Regions from separate parts of the Homo sapiens genome. Here all the other regions are reported to be linked to region 2. The links are microRNA targets in miRTarBase. Many come from high-throughput screens and were not tested one by one. Region 2 holds a microRNA gene; each other region holds the end of a gene's coding sequence.
What was found. The annotated mature microRNA hsa-miR-552-5p reads GUUUAACCUUUUGCCUGUUGG and lies in region 2 at 2,162-2,182, shown strand. An mRNA with a match to its seed (bases 2 to 7 or 8) in the 3' UTR can be bound and repressed. Matches are read on the target gene's strand: a 7mer-m8 pairs with bases 2 to 8, a 7mer-A1 pairs with bases 2 to 7 and ends in A, and an 8mer does both.

Region 1 (7,121 bases), not on the chromosome of region 2:
CCTCAAGAACAAGGTGGCCACCTTTGCCAAAGTGGAGAAGGAAGAGGACATGATTCAGTGAGAAGCCGGGTGCCCTGGGCGCGGGGAGGGCTGGAGGCAGAGTCCAGGCCCTGGCATGTCCCTCCCCCACAGCCCCTCCTCCACGGTCCGCTCTGTGGAGTGGGGTGCCTGTCCCCTGCCACTGGGTGACCCACCCCTCTCCACCAGCTTCTGGAAGCGGCTGAGCCGCCTGATGAGCAAAGTGAACCCAGAGCCGAACGTCATCCACATCATGGGCTGCTACATTCTGGGGAACCCCAATGGAGAGAAGGTACAGTGACCCCCAAGCCCCACCCCAGACCTCTGGAAACCCCCGACGTGGACAGACAGGGCAGAGCCTTCCATGTTTCCTGGCATTTTTTTTCCTTCCCCCGGGCATTCCCCTAGAAATCCTTTATGCCTGAGCCCAGCCAGGTTTGGGGGGTCTGAAAAAAGAGGGTGGGCCCTGCTCCCCATCTCCTCCCCGCTCCTCCTTCCCCATCTCTCTGCCTCGGACTCATGGCACCCCGCTTCCTCCAGCTGTTCCAGAACCTCAGGACCCTCATGACTCCTTATAGGGTCACCTTCGAGTCACCCCTGGAGCTCTCAGCCCAAGGTGAGTTACCCAGGCTGGGCCGAAGCTCTGCAGCCACTGCGGGGCCACGGTGGGGTGGGATCCCCAGGGCCGGCCAGGCCTGAGCCTCCTGCCCCCGCTCCGCCCAGGGAAGCAGATGATCGAGACGTACTTTGACTTCCGGTTGTATCGCCTGTGGAAGAGCCGCCAGCACTCGAAGCTGCTGGACTTTGACGACGTCCTGTGAGGGGCAGAGGCCTCCGCCCAGTCACCATCAGGCCACTCCCTCTGCACCGGGACCTGGGGCTGGGCCGCCTCGTGCTCCCCGGGACTGTGTGGCTCCGGTCTCGCCTGGAGCCACTTCAGGGCACCTCAGACGTTGCTCAGGTTCCCCCTGTGGGTTCCGGTCCTCGCTGCACCCGTGGCCGCAGAGGCTGCAGTCCCTGGGGGCCGGGAGGATCCCGCCCTGTGGCCCGTGGATGCTCAGCGGCCAGGCACTGACCTGCCATGCCTCGCCTGGAGGCTCAGCTGTGGGCATCCCTCCATGGGGTTCATAGAAATAAGTGCAATTTCTACACCCCCGAAACAATTCAAAGGGAAGCAGCATTTCTTGTTAACTAGTTAAGCACTATGCTGCTAGTTACAGTGTAGGCACCCCGGCCCAGCAGCCCAGCAGCCCACATGTGTTCAGGACCCTCCCTGCCCACCCCCTCCCTGCCGTATCGATCACCAGCACCAGGGTGGCCCGTGTGCGTGGGGCCAGCGTCGCCGGGCTGCCCAGCCTGGCTCTGTCTACACTGGCCGAGTCTCTGGGTCTGTCTACACTGGCCGAGTCTCCGACTGTCTGTGCTTTCACTTACACTCCTCTTGCCACCCCCCATCCCTGCTTACTTAGACCTCAGCCGGCGCCGGACCCGGTAGGGGCAGTCTGGGCAGCAGGAAGGAAGGGCGCAGCGTCCCCTCCTTCAGAGGAGGCTCTGGGTGGGGCCTGCTCCCCATCCCCCCAAGCCCACCCAGCACTCTCATTGCTGCTGTTGAGTTCAGCTTTTACCAGCCTCAGTGTGGAGGCTCCATCCCAGCACACAGGCCTGGGGCTTGGCAGGGGCCCAGCTGGGGCTGGGCCCTGGGTTTTGAGAAACTCGCTGGCACCACAGTGGGCCCCTGGACCCGGCCGCGCAGCTGGTGGACTGTAGGGGCTCCTGACTGGGCACAGGAGCTCCCAGCTTTTGTCCACGGCCAGCAGGATGGGCTGTCGTGTATATAGCTGGGGCGAGGGGGCAGGCCCCCCTTGTGCAGAGCCAGGGGTCTGAGGGCACCTGGCTGTGTTCCCAGCTGAGGGAGGGCTGGGGCGGGGGCCGGGCTTGGAACGATGTACGATACCCTCATAGTGACCATTAAACCTGATCCTCCACCGCGGCCGCCGCGTGGGTCTGTCCTCTCAGTGCTTTCCAGGGGCCTTCCTGTGCCCAGCTTCTGGGCCCACTCCTGTGAGGTCACTGCTGCAGGGCCTTCCTGCCTGGACAGAGTTGGAGCTAGGCCACTAGACCACCCCACAGGGCATAGCCAGGGGGACCAGCACAGGAGGGGACGGAGAGGAGCTGCAGGAGGGCTGGGGGGAGGCTGCAGTCTCGGAGGGGGGCCTCGCCGGGTCTGGAGGGGACAGCAGAGACAGCCCGTTCCCCCTGCCGCCTGAGGGCACCAGGGAGAGGGCTGTATGTCCCTCACGCCACACTGTGTGTGCAGTCAGCAGTGTGGCCACAGATGGGGGCCACTCTCTCAACCTCAGGTGTCCTCAGGGCCCAGACCGCTGCTGGGCACAGCCAGGCTGGCTGCCAGCTGGTTCCCTGCCCCGTGGCTGGGGGACAGAGCAGCACGTATCAGCTGGGCTAGGGTCAGGGGGCCACTGGTGCGCAGCCTGGCACAGCCTGGCAGGCTTGAGGCCCAGTGTGCTGGGGGTGGTCACACAGCCGTCAGCCACCTCCAGCTCTTCCAGGGCATTCTAGATGGGGTCCCGGGAGGGGGCAGGTTTTGGTGCCAATTTGAGTGTATAAAGTTTTAGGTAAATACCAAATGCCTGTAGACTCTGTGTTATTCAGTTACTATTTGAAAGTGACATATCGTGAAATCATGGGGGATCCGAGTCTCCTTTCTGCAAAGTTGATGAGACAAGTCGCCACCGCCTGGAATCTGCTGACGCTGCCGTGCAGGCCTCAAGGGTGGCACTCTTCAAAGTAGGACAGCATGCGAGGTCGCCACGTGCCCACACACTGCACTGCTCCAAAGGCACATCTGTCCGTCACCTGAGCTCTGAGACCCAGAACAGCCACAGGGACCCTGCAGTCCTAACCCGTCAGGTGGCTCCTGGGGCTGCTGCCAGCCGCATGCCTGTCCCACACAGTCCGGTCCGTAGGGTCTGCTGGAGTGAGTAAGGCCTGGGGGGCCTTATGTATGGTCCATGAGGTTCCATTCCTCATGCCATGACCACCGGGGGAAGTGAAAGGAGGAAGACACGTCAAAGCCAGCAGGCCCAGGAGCAGACATAGAAGGAGGTGGCCCCACAGGAGCAGACGCAGAAGTGCCAACGGGGAAGGAGGTGGCCCCAAGTGGAGGCAGGCTGGGCCAGGGCGGGGGGCCGGTGACCAGGGCAACCTCGGCTACTTTGCTGCACCCGCCCTCGCCTCCCTTGAAATACAAAAACAGCAGCAGCCAGAAATAGTTGGGGAAGAAATAAGAAATATTTGCCACACATGGGAGTGATTAAGGTCCTTAATATTTAAAGAGTTTTTATATGTTGCTAAAGAAAATGACAAAAACCGATATGGAAAAGTGAGCAGAGATGTGGAGAAATCATTCGCAGAGCAGGAAACTGGCTGGTAATTCCATGAAGAAAGTCCTCATCCCATCAGGAATCATGGAAAGGCCAATGAAAGCGACGAGGTAACCCCCTTTTCAATTTGAGAGGGTTTTGATCTGTCGCGCAGGCTGGGGCTCACCGCTGTCTTGACCTCCTGGGCTCAAGCGATTCTCCCACCCGCTCAGCCTCCGGAGTAGCTGGGACTACAGGCATCACCACGCCTGGCTAATTCTTTTATGTTTTGTAGAGACAGGGTCTCACTCTGTTGCCCAGGCTAGTCTCAAACTCCTGGCCTCGAGCAATCCTCCTGCCTCCTCAGCCTGTTACAGCTTTTTTTTTTAAGGTAATCTGGTAACAGCTCTTAAAAGTAGTGTGACTGATGAGTGCACAAGCCCGTCCAGCCCCAGCCGCCCCCTGGCACCTTTTCTGAGGGTGTCTACTGCCCCGCTGTGCTGTGCCCGCTAATCTGGGTGTGGCCCGATCGCACAATGGCTTTTCTGGAAGGATCCGATGCTCACGAGGCTTATTGCTAAGGAGGAAGATGCAACAGGTCCAGCTGTTCCAAGTGACTGGGTCACGCTTCACATCGATGTGCAATGTCTCCTGCCACCTGCCTGGATGCACTCTCGTGACTACCTGGCAGGCTGGGAACAGCACGGGGGAGGCCCCCGCCTGCCCCAGCGACCTGCCTGCCCTGCTCTCAAGTGCAGACCCCCAGGTCTGCACTTCCACGCTCACTACACAACCCCAAGTGGCCCCCCGGGTGGCCCCGTGGCCGGATGTGCACCCAGCAGAGCAGCCACCCTTGAGACCTGGGGTGTGGTCTGGGGGCTGTGTGGAGACCTCCCGCCAGGGTGCAGGAGTGTCTAAGGGCAAGCAGAGGTGTGATTCCTGTCTGTAAGGTAAAACCCCCGTGAGCAGGAATCAATAATGTAGACATGATCGGAATGGTGGAGGGAGCTGTGGCGGTCACACCCTTGCTGTTAGCATTGCCTCTGTGGGGGCAGGAGACAGCAAACATAAAACCTGTCCCTGAAAGGGGCAAGATGGCCCCGATGGCTCCCTGCACCTGTCCTGGTGCCTGCAGGCAGGCGGGTCAGCTCCCCTCCCGCTGCCAAATCTCCCACGTCTCTGTGCGCTCTGTCACCCCTGCTTTCTGGCCTGAGGGCTGGGAAGGGAGGTCTGGGGAGCCCAGGAGCTGAGAAGTACCCAAAAACCACCCCCAACGCCCCCCAACCCTCAGGCGTGCCTGTGAGTGTGTCTGTGTGTCTCACTCTGACTCACCCAGACAACTGACTTCAGCAGCCAACCTTGGTCATTCCCAGAACCACCACTGGGGGGCATACGTGTGGCTAGACTGGGGGCGCCCGAATATCTGTCTCTACAAAAAGTAAAAAAAAAATTAATGGGGTGTGGTGGTGGTGCGTGCCTGTGGTGTCAGCTGCTTGGGACGCTGGGGCAGGAGGATCACTTGAGCCCGAGAATTCAAGGCTACAGTGAGTTAAGATTACGCCACTGCACTCCATCCTGGGTGACAGAGCAAGACCTTGTCTCAAGAAAAAATTTTTAAATGAGTAAAATTTTAAAAAACAGATTTTGTCAGTCTTTCTGTCATTTCAACGCCTTCTCAACCTTGGTGTCTGCTGATGGCCTCTTCCCTGCTGGTCAGGATTCTCACAGTTCTTTGGGTGTGGAGGAATTCTGGTTTGTAATTTTTTTTTTTTTCTTAGAGTCTCTTTCTGTTGCCCAGGCTGGAGTGCAGTGGCACAATCTCGTCTGACTGCAACCTCCACCTTCCGGGTTCAAGTAATTCTCCTGCTTCAGACTCCCAAGTAGCTGGGATTACAGGCACCCACCACCACGCTTGGCTAATTTTTCGTATTTTTAGTAGAGACAGGGGTTTCACCATGTTGACCAGGCTGGTCTCGAACTCCTGACTTCAGGTGATCCACGTGCCTTGGCCTCCCAAAGTGCTGGGATGACAGGCATGAGCCACCACGCCTGGCCTGGTTTGTAATGTTTTGAATCTTACTTAATATGAGACTCGGAGTCTTCCTTTTATCCTATGGTGAACATTGCTGTTTTAGTTTCAGCCTCAGTGGCTATTGGTCCAAGGTCAGTTTTTCTCCAAGATTTTGGGGCACCCTCTGGTCTAGTCACACGTATGCCCCCCAGTGGTGGTTCTGGAATGACCAGGCTGGTCCTGAACTCCTGGCCTCAAGTGATCCTCCTGCCTTGGCCTCCCAAAGTGCTGGGATGACAGGTGTGAGCCACCATGCCCGGCCTGAAGACTTTAAAGTAGCTATTATAGCGGTGCCTAACTGAGCCATCGTGAGCACTTAAAATGTCAGAAGAGAAAGTCTCAGCAAAGGCTGGGCCCAGTGGCTCACGCCTGTCATCCTAGCACATTGGGAGGCCGAGGCGGATGGATCACTTGAGCACAGAAGTTTGAGAGAAGCTTGGGCAACATGGTGAAACCCTGTTTCTACTAAAAACAAAAACAAAAACAAAAATCAGCCGGGCACAGTGGTGCATGCCTGTGGTCCCAGCTACTTGGGAGGCTAAGGAGGGAGGATTGCTTGAGCCAGGGAGTTCACAGCTGCAGTGAGCTATGATCCTGCCACTGGGCCCGGTGGCTCACGCCTGTAATCCCAGCATTTTGGGAGGCCGAGGTGGGCGGATCACCTGCGTTCAGGAGTTCGAGACCAGCCTGGCCAACCTGGTGAAACCCTGTCTCTATTAAAAATACAAAAAAATTAGCCGGGTGTGGTGGCGCATGCCTGTAATCCCAGCTACTGGGGAGGCTGAGGCAGGAGAATCACCTGAACCTGGGAGGCAGAGGTTGCCGTGAGCCTACGTTGTGCCACTGTACTTCAGCCTGGGCAACAGAGTGAGACTTCGTCTCAAAAAAAAAAAATTTATATATATGTATATGTTTTAACTGAATAAAATGAAAATACAACATATCAAAAATTGAGAGAGATAGCTAAACAGTGCTTAAGAGGGAAATTCATAGCACAAATGCTTACATTAGAAAAAAAGAAAGGTTCAAGTCAATAATCTAACCTTCTGCATTAAGAAACCAGAAAAGGAGGAGCAATATAAGCTCAAATCAAGCAGAAGAAAGGAAATACAAGTAAGAGCAGAATTAAAATAATTCAAAAACCGGCCGGGCGTGGTGGCTCACGCCTGTAATCCCAGCACTTTGGGAGGCCGAGGTGGGCGGATCATGAGGTCAGGAGATCGAGACCATCCTGGCTAACACGGTGAAACCCTGTCTCTACTAAAAATACAAAAAATTAGCTGGGCGTGGTGGCACATGCCTGTAGTCCCAGCTACTCAGGAGGCTGAGGCAGGAGAATGGCGTGAACCTGGGAGGCAGAGCTTGCAGTGAGCTGAGATCCGGCCACTGCACTCCAGCCTGGGCAACAGAGAGAGACTCCGTCTCAAAAAAATTAAATTAAATTAAATTAAATTTAAAAATTCAAAAACCAAAAAGAAAAAATTATGAAACAAAAAGCAGGTTCTTTGAAATGATGAATAAAATGGATAAACCTCTAGCTAGCAACACTGATGAGAGACACAGAGGACAAAATTACCAATATGAGGAATGGGAGGGTTAGCACTGCAGACCCTACAGACATTAAAAGGATAACCAGGAAGTACTATGAATAA
Region 2 (7,121 bases):
ATGTCAGAGGGGAGGAAGTGTGTGTCAGTTGGTCCATGGGTGGCCATGGGCAGGCCTGAAAGGCACTGCAAGTCCCCACTTTGATCTGCGGGACTTACTGCTCAGCCCCCAGCCTTCAGGCCATCCCTGGCCTAAAGGTAGGGCCTTACTAGGGATCCACTCCCTTCAATCCAGGAGCCTGTCTGCCTCCTGCTGCCATCCATGGTGCCTATGGTGCCCAGGCTGCTTGCACCAAAAGGCACCTGCAGGCCAGTGCCAAGCCACCCTCAGCCCTCCCCCTCAGTTTCTCCTCTCATGCTCATTTTGCCCAAATTCTGGAGGAGGCCGAGGTAGCAGGGTACTGGCATGTCAGCACTGCCCCAAGCATGTGCACACCTGGCCAGGCTGTGCCAGTGCCCAGGATAGGCCCCAACCTGGCTCCAAGATTGGAGTAGGGTGCCAGGAGTGGAGAGGCCAGGCAGCAGGAGCAGACACTCTAGAGCCTGTGGGGCCAGGGGGTTGGGGGGGACTTCTGAGGCCCCCAAGAGTGAAGACTGCAGAGACTCTCGGGTCCTGCGCTTGGGAGGGTGGCCACAGCTGCACCTAGGGAACTCCCGCCTTGCCAACTCAAAAGGGGTGGGGCTCCCACTTGTCACCAGCTCCTGCCTGCCTCACGGAGTGTGCAGCCCTGGGGTGGTGCCTCCCTGCTGCAGCCTGCATGATGGCAGCGGCCACTGCCAACAGAGGGAGGAACCTGGTGGGAGGTGATTGGATCAAGGGGGCCAGTTTCCCCCGTGCTGTTCTCGTGGTAGTGAGTGAATTCTCATGAGATCTGGTTGTTTGATAAGTGGCTCTTTCTCCTTCTTTCTCTCTCCCTCTCCTACTGCCTTTTGAAGATGTGCCTTGTTTCCCTTTTGCCTTCTGCCATGATTATAAGTTTCCTGAGGCTTTCCCTGTGAGTCCATTAAACCCCTTTCTTTATAAATTACTCAGTCTCAGGTAGTATCTTTATAGCAGTGTGAAAACAGACTAATACACAACTCAATACGAAAATGGGCAAAGTAACTTAAATAGACACTTAATGAAACAGGAAATCTGAATGTCTAGACTGAATATTCAGTTTCACCAGGGAAGTAAAGGAACTATTTGTATTTATTTGTATGATTATTTGTAACTTGGGAAATACAAATGAAATAGATATCATTATATGCCCATTACATTGTTAAAATTGAAAAAAAGTCTGATAAGATCAAGTGCTAGCAAAGGCATGGAGTAATAGGAACTTTTACACTGCTGGTGGCAGTTCTAAGTGATGAAATTTCTTTGGCATAAATTCAGCATTATCTAATAACATTAATAATGCACATACCCTGTGATCCAGAAATGTTACTAGGTCTATACCTTAGAGAACTTATATAGGTGCAGCAGTGGACACATCAAGAAAGCCCATGGTAACATGGCTTGTGAAAGCAGAACAATAAGCAATGTCCATCAATAGTATAATGATACAGCAAAATACAAAACAATAGTAGAATGATACAGCAACAAAACCAAAAAAATCCATCTGCATAGATAAAACTGAGGACAATAATCTTGGGTAAAAAAGCAAGCTATAGACAAGTTGCTGAGTAGGAGAAGATATTTTCAAATCACACACCTGAAAAGGACTAGAATCTTGATTATATAAGAGCTCTCAAAACTCAATGGTAAAAAGAAAACAAGTAATCTACTAGAACATGGGCAAAACACATGAATAGATATTCCATAGTGTAAGTTATTCAAATGGCAAAAAAAATCCATGAAATATGTTCAACATAAGGGTAATGCAAATTAAAACCATGATAACATATCACTATGCATCTATCAGAATTGCTAAAATAAAAAAAAAATGAGAACACCCAACATTGGCAAGGATGTAGAGAAATAGGCTTGTTCATATATTGTTGATGGGATGTAAAATTGTAGATCTAGCCTAGAAAACAGAGGGCAGCTAATTATAAAACCCAGCATGCCTATGACCCAGCAGTAGCGCCCTCAGGTGTTTATCCCAGGGAAATAAAAACTTATGTCCACACAAAAACCTGGGGAGCTTTATTTGCAATAGCCAAGTGTTCACAGCAGCTTTATTTGTAATAGTCGAATATACTACAGTTTGTTTAACCATTCAAATATACCACAGTTTGTTTAACCTTTTGCCTGTTGGTTGAAGATGCCTTTCAACAGGTGACTGGTTAGACAAACTGTGGTATATACACAGGATGGAATACTACTCAGCAATAAACAAGCAACAAGCTATTGATTACAAACAACTTGGATGAATCTTTGGGGAATTATTATGAGTGAAAAAAGTCAATGCCAAAGGCTACATATGTATGATTACATTTATATAACATTTTGAAATGACAAATGTTACAGATAGAGAAGGGATTAGTGGTTGTTGAGGGTTAAGAATGTGGTGAGGTGGAGGGAGGTGGTTATAAAGGCACAACATGAAGGATCCTCATGGTGATGGACTGGCTGATGTCTTGACTTTAGTGATGGACACACACACACACACACAGACCACAAATGATACAAGTAAATTGGAGAAATCTGGGTAAGACTGGTGAGCTGTATCATGTCAATATCCTGGTTATGATATTGTACTAGTGTTTTAAAAATGTTATTGTATTAGTCTCTTCTCATGCTGCTGATAAAGACATACCTGAGACTGGGTAGTTTATAAAGGAAAAGAGGTTTAATGGGTTTACAGTTTCACATGGCTGAGGAGGCCTCACAATCATGGCAGAAGGTGAAAGGCACGTCTTACATGGTGGCAGATATGAGAGAAATGAGAACCAAGTGAAAGGGGTTTCCCCTTATAAAACCATCAGACCTTGTGAGACTTATTCACTACCATGAGAACAGTATGGGGGAAACCACCCCCGTGATTCAATAATCTCCCCCTGGGTCCCTCCCACAACACGTGGGAATTATGGGAGCTACAACTCAAGATGAGATTTGGGTGGGGACACAGCCAGACCATATCAGTTACCACTGGGGGAAACTGGATAAATGGTACACAGAATTGCATATGAATTTATAATTATCTCAATAACAAATTCTAATTAAAAATTATTAACTCTTTCACTCAAAAATTTCAGAAACAAATTTATCATAGCTTTGACTTGGCTACAAAAACCCCAAGCCATACAAACCTACATAACTGCAAGATTCTAGTCTTAGAGATCAAAAACGTATTAAACAATATATTGTTCAGGATATAAGGTGATAAAGAAAAAAAACATTGGAGAATGAATTCAGATTAGCATTTCTCTGGGTTACGAAGAGAGGCAATCAGATCAAAGAGGTCATGCTTGATGGTCACGCTTTCATTTCTAAACTGGATGGTGGGATACACGAATGTTCCCTTTATTGTTATTCTTTGTACAGCAGACATGTTTTATAAATATCTTTTGTACCCACTCAGTATTTAATGAAACCTTGTAGAAAGTCTTTGGTGTGTGTTGGTGTATATGTTGTGTGTGTATTTGTATTTGGCAATGTATGTTTCCACCTCCTGAGCCTGGCAAGCTCTTTCCTGCCACAGGACCTTTGCACTTGCTATAACCTCTTCTGAGAACTCTCCTTCTTTGGTTCTTCAAAGATTGTGGTCCCACCTCAGCTCAGGCAAGTGAAGTGAAGAGACTTTCAGATCAATGCGTATGCATCCTGAATGGTCTTGTTTGTTGATTCATGTATCTGCCTCTTCTGACTAGAATGTAAGTTCCCTGACGTCAGAGAGCTCCTCTAACTTATTCAACCATTACCTAGACGTGGGTTGACAGACTGAACGAATGCATATTTATGCATATGAATTTAGGGTCTAAAAAAAGCATGCCAATTGAAAGTGTTGGCTTCCTAAGAATTTCTTTGGGCTACTGACTATTTTACTCTTTAATAGTATCATGGTAAACTGGGGGTTAAATTGCTTTTGCAATTATTGAAGGTCTGAGTGAAGGGAGTTACGTAGAATAACAAGGGGCATGTCTTTGAAGGACACAGGTAACAGCAAAGAACAAGTTTAAAAGAGTTAAACACATTCTAGCTAAAGAGGGAATAAGTTTAAATTGGGTTATTTTCCCTGGAGATTATTGCAATTTTAAGAGTAATGCTGCTTCCAAGAATGTTAGCTTTTCTCTTGGTGACCATGGATATAACAGTGTGTGGGTCCGTCATTAATCAGGATAAGGCATTACAGATCTGGGTCCTATTACCCTAAGTTTGTTTGTAAAATGGATTTCTTTGCAGGCAGCACTGACGTGTGACCATGTGATGTTTGGATTGTGCTTCAGAGCAGGGGATGGCTTGGCAAAGGCCTTTGCGGTTTATAACCTATTTTATTTTCTACAATTGAATTTTGAATTTTGAAGTCCAATCAATTTGAGTTCTTTACAAGTATAATTTGGTTACCCATGGGATGGTTTGAATTTAAGTTTCATGGAAGTAAGTTTGCATGCATTTTGGTCTTTTTAAATTAATTCTCATTGGAAACGTTTCATTATTCTGAAATGTTTGGTGATAGTAATTGTGAGGCTAGAACTGCTTGTTCATAAATAGGGTTATTATTGGATCTCCTCATGCCTTGATTGATTTATGATGAAGAAGACACACCTGTAGCATAATGCTCTTTTTTTGGTGGTGATTTCAAGTACAATCACTATGAAATGTAAAACCAGGATACAGAAGTAGAGAATTTAGTTCATGCCTTTCTGTGTAATTGATTTGAATACATTGAGTCAGGCTACATGCTTATGGGGAATTAGAGGTTCAGCAATTTACAAATGTTGCCATTATAATCGGATCGGAAAAAGAAGTGATGGGACCTGCTGAGTGGTGTGAGACAATGGGAAATGTATCTTTTGACAGGAACCCCAATGCCTAGGATTTTCTGTAGCATGAAATGGAGTGAGTGTGCTGGGCGAGGTGGAAAGCCACCATTTCTGCAATCAAAATTATAAAAAGAATTATAATAACTGCCAGTTATTAAGCATTAACTGTGCACCAAGCACTTTGTTAAGACTTTGTCTCTGCATTATTGCATTTAATCTCATAAAAAGCCTATGCAGTAGGTTGTGCTAGGTTGTTGATTGTTCATCTGGCATCACCACCACCTGTCATCAGGTGTCCCTTGCTTTGTGGAAGAGGAGATGAGACCTACATTTCCCAGAATGCCTTTTGCCATATGGCTCCTGGTTTGAGTCTGCCAAAAGAGGTGCTTAGGGAAGGTTTGGAAAGTAGGAAAGGTGGCGAGGCTGTGATTCTCCAGAATTAGTTGCAGGTAGGTAGATAAATAGGCAGACATGAGGTTTGAAGCACCTTCCACTTGAGTTTTACCTGCTTCATTGCTGCAGCCTGAGAAGGCCAGCAGAGCTTCCCAGGGGTTTTGGGTAAGACCTTGGATGCCTGCTGTACTGGTGTCCTTGGGTGCTCAGTGGTGGCTTCCCCAGCTATTCTTTCCCAGGTCTTCTAACAGCTGTAGAAGCTTCTAATTCCCTTCATTAAAGCCCTTCCTACTTGGACTATGTGGAATTGGCTTCAGTGTTTCTGACTGGACTCTGACTGATACATAGGGTATTATTCTTCTTTCCAGTTTTTAGACGAGTGAACTGAGGTTTAGAGAGGTGAATTGACCACTCACAAAAAATGGCAGAGTGGGATTTACACCCAGACCGTAATCACAAGCCTTCACCATCTCTGAAAAAGCACCTGGAGATCCAGGTGCATGAACACTGCTCACAGCCTCATACATATAATGTTTGCTCGATCCCAGAACTATAGCCCCACATTAATTGTGACCGTGGGCACCCCTCTCAGAGACAGGGTTTTCCATCTGTTGGTCCACTTAGACTGCATGGTCACTGGTCAACTATGGTTGCTCTTCCTTGTTGGAAACCCAGACAGCCTCTGGAAATTAGTTAACTTGTGGATGAAAACAAGAAATATATATTCATATCTTGCCTTGCTCATACCAATTGCTATCGTAGGTGACAGATTCTTGCATCAGTAATTTTAGAGACAGCTGAAATTGTTCATGATAGATGTCCACTTGAAGGTTACATAACGGGATATTAACACTGCTTACATCAGAGGAGAGGTCATGGGTGGGGACTGGCGCTACAATTTACCATCTTTTTATTGTATGTTTCAGTTGTTATAATCAAACATGTGTTACTTTTGTAATTTGAAAAACATGCTATAAACAAACTGAATATAAAATCAAAAGACATGCTCACTTAGATACTAGGGCATGTGGCATGATGTATGTGATGGTGACACCAAGTTGACAACGGACATCTATAATGTCACATAATGCACTTTAAGTGATGGCACAGGACTTGTATATGGTAGCAAGCAGAGCAGCAGTGGTTCTCAAATCTTTGTCTAGTTGGAAGAACCACTTTTAAATAACATTTCACATGGAACCACAATATATAAAACTGATAAGAGGGGAGCTACTCTGAATAAAACGACAGTAATCCCTGGAGCCTCAGAGCCCCAAAGACTAGTATTTTTGTTTCAACCCCATGTTCTTCCATTAGCCTTAGAAATGCCACTGTAGAACCTTGCTGCCATGAAGAAAACATAACGACAACATAAATGCCAACAAGAAATCTGCTCTCATGCTGATTGATTACTTGTGTTCTCTCATTATTGTTCCTTCTCTTTGTAGGGTAGGCCATGGGAATGAGCTCTCGATGCTTCTCTACAATCATGAGTAAAAGTCAGGCTTCTCCATGGAGCAGAACTAGCTTGGACACTAGCCTGATGAGCAGATATCTCAGGAATTACATGGGACAGAGAAGATGAGGTCCCAGTGAGCATTGTTTCCCCAAAGCCTGGAGTCAGAAAGCCCCATGGGATGGGAAGAAGAGGGAGTGTGTCTTCAACCTGAGATATTCCTGAGTCACCTTAGATTGGCAGCCCGACACAGATAGGCTTGGAGCAAAGAGCAAGGACTGAGGGATGGATGAGTCAGAGGGAAGGGGTCTGGACCAATGCCTCCATTGTGAACTGTGAGGCTCTTGCATATTGGGAGCTCTCTGAAGGCAGCAGTGTCTCCAGCATCACACCAAGAGCAACTGAGGCTAGGCTTGTGTCTC
Region 3 (7,121 bases), not on the chromosome of region 2:
ACAAAGGCAGAAATGCTGGGGAGTGTCATCAGAAATTTCCAGGACTTCTTTCCTGTGATCTTCAGCAAAGCCTCCGAGTACTTGCAGCTGGTCTTTGGCATCGAGGTGGTGGAAGTGGTCCGCATCGGCCACTTGTACATCCTTGTCACCTGCCTGGGCCTCTCCTACGATGGCCTGCTGGGCGACAATCAGATCGTGCCCAAGACAGGCCTCCTGATAATCGTCCTGGCCATAATCGCAAAAGAGGGCGACTGTGCCCCTGAGGAGAAAATCTGGGAGGAGCTGAGTGTGTTGGAGGCATCTGATGGGAGGGAGGACAGTGTCTTTGCGCATCCCAGGAAGCTGCTCACCCAAGATTTGGTGCAGGAAAACTACCTGGAGTACCGGCAGGTCCCCGGCAGTGATCCTGCATGCTACGAGTTCCTGTGGGGTCCAAGGGCCCTCGTTGAAACCAGCTATGTGAAAGTCCTGCACCATTTGCTAAAGATCAGTGGAGGACCTCACATTTCCTACCCACCCCTGCATGAATGGGCTTTTAGAGAGGGGGAAGAGTGAGTCTGAGCACGAGTTGCAGCCAGGGCCAGTGGGAGGGGGTCTGGGCCAGTGCACCTTCCAAGGCCCCATCCATTAGTTTCCACTGCCTCGTGTGACATGAGGCCCATTCTTCACTCTTTGAAGAGAGCAGTCAGTATTGTTAGTAGTGAGTTTCTGTTCTATTGGATGACTTTGAGATTTATCTTTGTTTCCTGTTGGAATTGTTCAAATGTTCCTTTTAACGGATGGTTGAATGAACTTCAGCATCCAAGTTTATGAATGACAGTAGTCACACATAGTGCTGTTTATATAGTTTAGGAGTAAGAGTGTTGTTTTTTATTCAGATTGGGAAATCCATTCCATTTTGTGAATTGTGACAAATAACAGCAGTGGAAAAAGTATGTGCTTAGAATTGTGAAAGAATTAGCAGTAAAATACATGAGATAAAGACCTCAAGAAGTTAAAAGATACTTAATTCTTGCCTTATACCTCACTCTATTCTGTAAATTTGAAAAAAAAGCATGGATACCTGGATATCCTTGGCTTCTTTGAGAATTTAAGAGAAATTAAATCTGAATAAATAATTCTTCCTGTTCACTGGCTCATTTATTTTCCATTCACTCAGCATCTGCTCTGTGGAAGGCTCTGCGTTAGTAGTGCGGATGCTAAGGTAAGCAAGACTCACGCCTACCCGTAGGGTTGTAGAGCCTAGGACCTGCAGTCATATAATTAAGGTGGCAAGAAGTCCTGTAAGATGTAGAGGAAATATAAGAGAAGGGTGAGGGTGTGGGGTTCCAGGAGGGAGTTGTGGAGTGTAAATGCCCTGAGCTGGGGCATTTTGGACTTTGGGAACCTGCAGTTCCTTCTGAAGGAGCTGACTCTGATGAAGCTGGGTGGGTCCAGGGCCCACAGATTCTCAGTGAATGAGAGAAAAGCCTGGAATGGAAAGCAACTCTGAGTAGTTTATTTCGGATGGGGGATGAACAGAGAGGAATCTCCACCTGGGGCTGGAATAGAAGGTGTCCTGTGCTTTTGTCCCACTGCTATTGAACACAACCCAAGATCTAGGTGATGAAAATCTATCATCTGCAAGGGTTTCCTGAGCGATAAGGCTGAATTTCCCAGGAAGGGTGACCCAGAAGCCACTGGCCAGGTGCTTTTCTGCCAGGCAGGGAGAGCCAGAGCTGACTCCATTAAAAAGGCATTCTAACTAGGTTATCTCAAGTGCAATTTGACCAATTGTAGGCGTGGGCCAGATTTTGGATGGTAACAAAATGGATGAAAATAGTGGTTTGGGTGGGAAAGCAGCTGGGAGAGATGGAAGGAATTGGTCTTTGACACACATTCTAGGAGTTTTGGGTTGCACCTGGCTGGGCAAAACTCCCGCACACACAAAGTTTGAAGTGCATTCTCTAAGAGGAAATACTTAACTGAATTTTACAGGTGAAGCTTCCTTTTTGGCCTAATTATCCCATGTCCTGTTGAGCTGTATATTTTCTGATGACTCCTGGAGAACAACGACAACAACAACAAAGTCCCAGAGTGTTAATGCCTAGGCTTTAAAAATATTAGAAATAACAGCCATCGGCCATTTGTTAAACTTCTAATTTCCACCACGCCCGGAGTTTCTGTTGCTCCACATCTTCACTGGCAATTGGTCTTGGTTTTGTTTTGCTTTTTTATGGGTTTTAGACATTCTAATAGGTGTGTAGTAGTATCTCACTTTAGTACACAATTATCTAATGCCAAAGGACACTCAGTATTTTATTATGCTTATTTGCCCTGTGTGTATCTTCTTTTGTGTAGATTGTGTTCAGATCTTTGACTATTTTCATTTTTTCTATCATTGAGCTTTAAGAATTCGTATATATTGTAGAGACAAGTTCTTTATCACATATGTGTACCACAGATTTTTTCTGCTAGACTGTGGCTTGTTTTCATTCTCTTAACATTGTCCTTTGAAGAGCATAAAATTTTTATTTTAATAAAATCAACTTGGCAAATTTTTCTTTCCTTGATCATGCTTTTGGTGTTGAATTTAAAAACTCATCACCAAACTCAAAGTTATGTGGATTTTCTCTTACGTTTTCTTTTAGAGGTTGTATAGTTCTTGTATTTTTCATCAGGTCTATGATGTATTGAGTTAATTTTCGTGCAATATGTAAGGATATGTCTAGGTTATTATAATTTGTGTATAGGTGTCTAATTGTTCAGGCACCTTTTGTTGGAAAACCTGTACTTTCACCATTATTGCCTTTGTTGTGAATCACCTGACTATGTGTGTGCAGGTCTATTTCTGAGCTCTATTCTGTTTTATTAATCTATGTGTCTATTCTTTGCTAATGCTTATGTCCTCCACCAAATTCATATTTTGAAACCCTCAGCCCCAGGGTGTCAGTATTTGGAGATGAGGCTTCTAAGGTAGTAATTAATGTTAAAAGAGGCCATAAGGGTGGGAGCTTGATCCCACAGAATTAGTGTGATTGTAAGAAGGGAGAAGAAACAGAAGAAAGTACTTTTGTGCCTGCATGACTTCTCTCTCTCTCTCTCTTTCTTTCTCTCTCTCTCTTCCTCTCTCTCTCTCTGCACATACACAGAGGAAAGGCCAAGAACTGACAAATTAATAAAGGGCCATCTACAAGCCAGGAATAAGGCCATCACCAGAAGACAACCCCGCCAGTCCTTGATCTGGGACTTCCACATTTCAAAACTGAAAAAAGATAAATTTCTGTTGTTTCAGCTACTCAGTCAATGGCATTTTGTTATGGCAGCCTAAGCTAAGACATAACCTCAGGTAACACAATTTTTTTTGTTTTGTCCTAGAAAAAAAAAGCAATGTAATTGTGACATATAAAGTCTGTGGCTCATTTTGAGTTACATTTTTGTATGGTGCAAGATATGTGCAACGGCTAGTATTATGTGTCAACTTGTCTAGGCTATACTGCTCAGCTGTGTGGTCAAACAGTAGTCTAGATGTTGCTGTGAAGGTATTTTGTAGATGTGATCAACATTTACAATCAGTTGACTTTAAGTAAAGCAGTTTAACTTCCATAATGTGGATAGGCCTCATCCAATTAGTTGAAGGTGTTAAGAGAAAAGACCAAGGTTTCCTGGAAAAGGAATTCTACCACAAGACTAACATAAAAATGCGCTGTGAGTTTCTAGCCTGCTGGCCTGCCTTCACTGTCCTGGGGGAGGCATGGAGAGACCAGGTGGACTGGAGTAGACTGTTGAGAGACACTGGTCTGGTGAAGATGTCCAGGAAACCACGAGCCTCCAGCCCATTGTCCAACAACCACCCACCAACACCAAAGAGGTGAGGAAGTGGAAAGCATCCTCTCAACCCTAGCCCAGAAGCCCTATCAAAGTGAACGGCCCACCGAAGCTCTAAATCCTACCCTGTCCTCCCCTGGCACAACCCCCACCCCACCCTGCCCCATTTCTCTATGAAGCCCCTGTTCTCACCCCTTCTCCATCCTCTTCCCCAAACCAGTGCCCTTCTTTGATCTCCTGGTTGGTTTTCCAGGTTGCCAAGACAACCTGGAAGGGAACAGGGACCCGTCAAGGAAGTTCCAGGAACAAAAGGCTCTCCCTAAAAGACCACCGCTTCAAAAAAACCTGAGGAATGGAGTGGGCCAACACTATCCAGCCACTCCGACCAGCCAAAAGAACTCAATCAAAATGAGACACAGTAGGACCACAAGGGCAAGGAGACCACCACCTTCTCCAGTCTCTCTTTGGGCAGCCAGTAATTCCCGGGCAAGGCCAGAAACCTCAAGGCTACCTGAAAAGTCTCCAGAGGTCTAACCCCAGAAAAATAGCCAACAGGGTGTAGAGTACATTTTATACCCCAAAGGGTATACCCCATGGTGACGAAAATAAAATGAACATGTTGTAAAATGATGTGTGTGTCTGTGTGTCTCAAATGGTAGGGGTAGGGAGTAAGGGGGAAGAGGTGGGAGTGTGAGAAGGGAGGGAGGTGGGATCTTCTACAATTTCTTTAAATTCAACTTGCTCTTCGTTCTTTGGTTTCCTAGAGTGAAAGTTATGGTTATTGATTTTAGATTTCATTTTCTAATATAAACATTTAAAATATGCTATATATTTCCCTCAAGGACACACTTTAGCAGAATCCCACTTTTTGTATGTACATTTTTATTTTCATTCAACTTAATGTATTTTTAAAATTCTCCTGGGACTCCCTCTTTGACCCATAGGTTATATAGGAGCTTATTTTAAAATTTCCAATATTTGGGCATTTTTCAGATATCTTGGTGTTTGGTTTTGAGTTTTATTATATTATGGTCTAAGAAGAGGCTTTCTATTATTTCTATTCTTTTCAATTTGTAAGCTTTGTTTGATGGCCCAGAATACCATCTATCTTGGGAGATATTTCATGCACACTTGAGAGGATTGTTTATTCTGCTATTGTTGAATGCGGTGCTTTTCTTATTGTTTTATTTAGTCAGAGTAGTTAATGGTGCTTTTCAGGTCATCTATATCCTTCCTGGTTTTCTGCTTACTTTTTCTCCTAAGTACTGAGAAACAAATCAAAGAGTTTTGACAAACATTTAGTCCCATCAAACCACAACCACAGTGAAGGTGAAAAATATATTCATCCTCCCCAAAAGTTTCTTCCTGTCTGCTTGCTGTCAAACCATCTCTTCAGTAGAAGTGATCCAAGGTGAGCAGAAGTGAGCATCCGCTGACCATGACCATTTTCCCTGTTAACAAAGGCAGGTAGGCACAGAGAGCAGCAGTTGCTTTCAGACACAGGCAGTATCCAGGAGGAAAACCAGACCAATACTGTCATAGAAGGAGAGCTTTCTGGCCTGGACACAGGCTGTCTCTCCTTTTCTTGCACACTGCCAGTCCCCAAGTCTGGCTCTGCCTTCCTGGCCTCCCTGGCTCAGATGGGCGATTCACACCTCCTCACCATCTCCCCCCACTCCCTACAGACTGAATTAAGGGCTTTGCCACTTTCTATTGTTTTGTTGACTTGGTGTTTCCTCAGCATATATTGAATAAAAGTTTTCTGTAGGAATCAATAAGTGCATGGAATGAATGAAATCACCTGGCATGGGAATTCTTTGATTCAAATTATGGAGTCTGCCCTTCCTGGGCCTCCTGCCTACATGAAGAAACCCACAGTTCTTTCACTTGTGCTCACTTGAGTTCAGAAATTCCATGGCAACTACCACGGAGAGGGTCACTGCAGACACCTTCTCCCCAGGCTCAAACACTTATCATGGAGGTAAGGATGCTTCCAACAGGATGGTGCATGACGCTTCCTCTATTGGACCAAACACATCCCCATCAGTTTAACAGGGAAGGGTGCCAACTCCACTGCCTTGCCATCCAACCTGCTCACATACACAGCTTGGGCCAACCCTCTACCCCAGACCCTGTCTGGTGGCAACACAGGCCTGTGATCAGTGCCCCAGTACACCTGTCTCCTCATGTGCCGAGAGCTCAGAAGCCTCACGAGTCCATCTGAGACATGGTCACCACCTGGATCATTTTCATTGCATGTCCACAGCCAATCCTTCATCTACAGAGTAGGAGCTTACTAGTCTCAGGGCACTCTTCCTCCAACTTCCCCTCCATGCAGCCTTGCTGCCACCTTTTACACCTCATAAATATTCCTGGCCTGTCTTGGTTGTTGCTCATCAATCAGCAACCCATTCACATAGTCCAGGCTCTATGGAGGGTCCACAGGAGATAAAACAGGAGCCCGCAGCAGGCTTGAAGACAACTTCCTGCCCTGGGACGCTGGCAAAAGTGCACACGACCACTGGAGTGGTGGAGAGAGGGAGCTCACCCAGAATGATGCAGGGAGCCAGCCATACTCTTCGTGAGAGAGGGAAAGGGATTCTGAGGGAGGGTTGGGTGTCTAGCACAACCGTGGTGTATTCAGTCAACAGGCCTGCCCATTCAGATCACACGGCCCCCTCCAGCTGGTGACGATGGTGCTGGAATTTCCTAAGCCTATTCCTTTTCATTGTCCTGCCCTCCCTCCTCTCTTCCCCCTTCTCTCCCTCAGGTCCCTGCCCCCACCGGGCTGAACTCTGGATTCAGACCTCTGAATGCCAGCCTGCCTGGGGAAATGTGGACTTGGTTTCATATACGGTCTCTCTCATGGACTCTGGCCATTGCTCTCCCCTTGTATTTGTTCATTTTCATACTGCTATGAAGAAATACCTGAGACTGGGTAATTTATAATAATAAAAAAAAGAGGTTTAATGGACTGACAGTTCTACATGGCTGGGAAGGCCTCACAATCATGGCAGAAGGGGAAGGAGGAGCAAAGATATGTCTCACATGGCAGCAGGCAAGAGAGCATGTGCAGGGGAACTGCCCTTTGTGAAAACATCAGATCTCCTAAGACTTATTTACTACGGCGAGAACAGCATGGGAAAAACTTATCCCTGTGATTCAATTACCTCCCACCTGATCCCTCCCATGACACGTGGAGGTTATGGGAGCTACAATTCAAGATGAGATTTGGGTGGGGAAACAATCAAACCATATCAGTGCTGGATCCTCCCGATTACCCTCATGGGCTGAGGGTGTCCTGTCTGCTCTCC

Region 1: the mRNA of NSMF is a reported target of hsa-miR-552-5p. The part of its 3' UTR that is shown has no 7-base or 8-base seed match.
Region 3: the mRNA of MAGEA12 is a reported target of hsa-miR-552-5p. Seed matches in the 3' UTR shown: 7mer-A1 at 994-1,000.

Annotation. Positions count from the first base shown.
Region 1 is chr9:137,443,112-137,450,232 of GRCh38, reverse strand. NSMF (NMDA receptor synaptonuclear signaling and neuronal migration factor) reads left to right here. Exons shown (of 16, transcript NM_001130969.3): 13 at 1-57; 14 at 208-310; 15 at 559-634; 16 at 742-2,663. The coding sequence ends at 839. MIR7114 (microRNA 7114) reads left to right here and starts at 147; the gene lies at 147-207. RefSeq lists an enhancer at 1-964.
Region 2 is chr1:34,664,711-34,671,831 of GRCh38, reverse strand. It overlaps MIR552 (microRNA 552), which reads left to right and starts at 2,138; the gene lies at 2,138-2,233. The region is part of intron 1 of LOC105378641 (a long non-coding RNA gene); the gene reads left to right.
Region 3 is chrX:152,736,552-152,743,672 of GRCh38, forward strand. It overlaps MAGEA12 (MAGE family member A12), which reads left to right. Exons shown (of 3, transcript NM_001166387.4): 3 at 1-1,118. The coding sequence ends at 555. It also overlaps the pseudogene CSAG4. Among named protein-coding and RNA genes, the nearest start is that of MAGEA12, 6.4 kb to the left of the region's middle.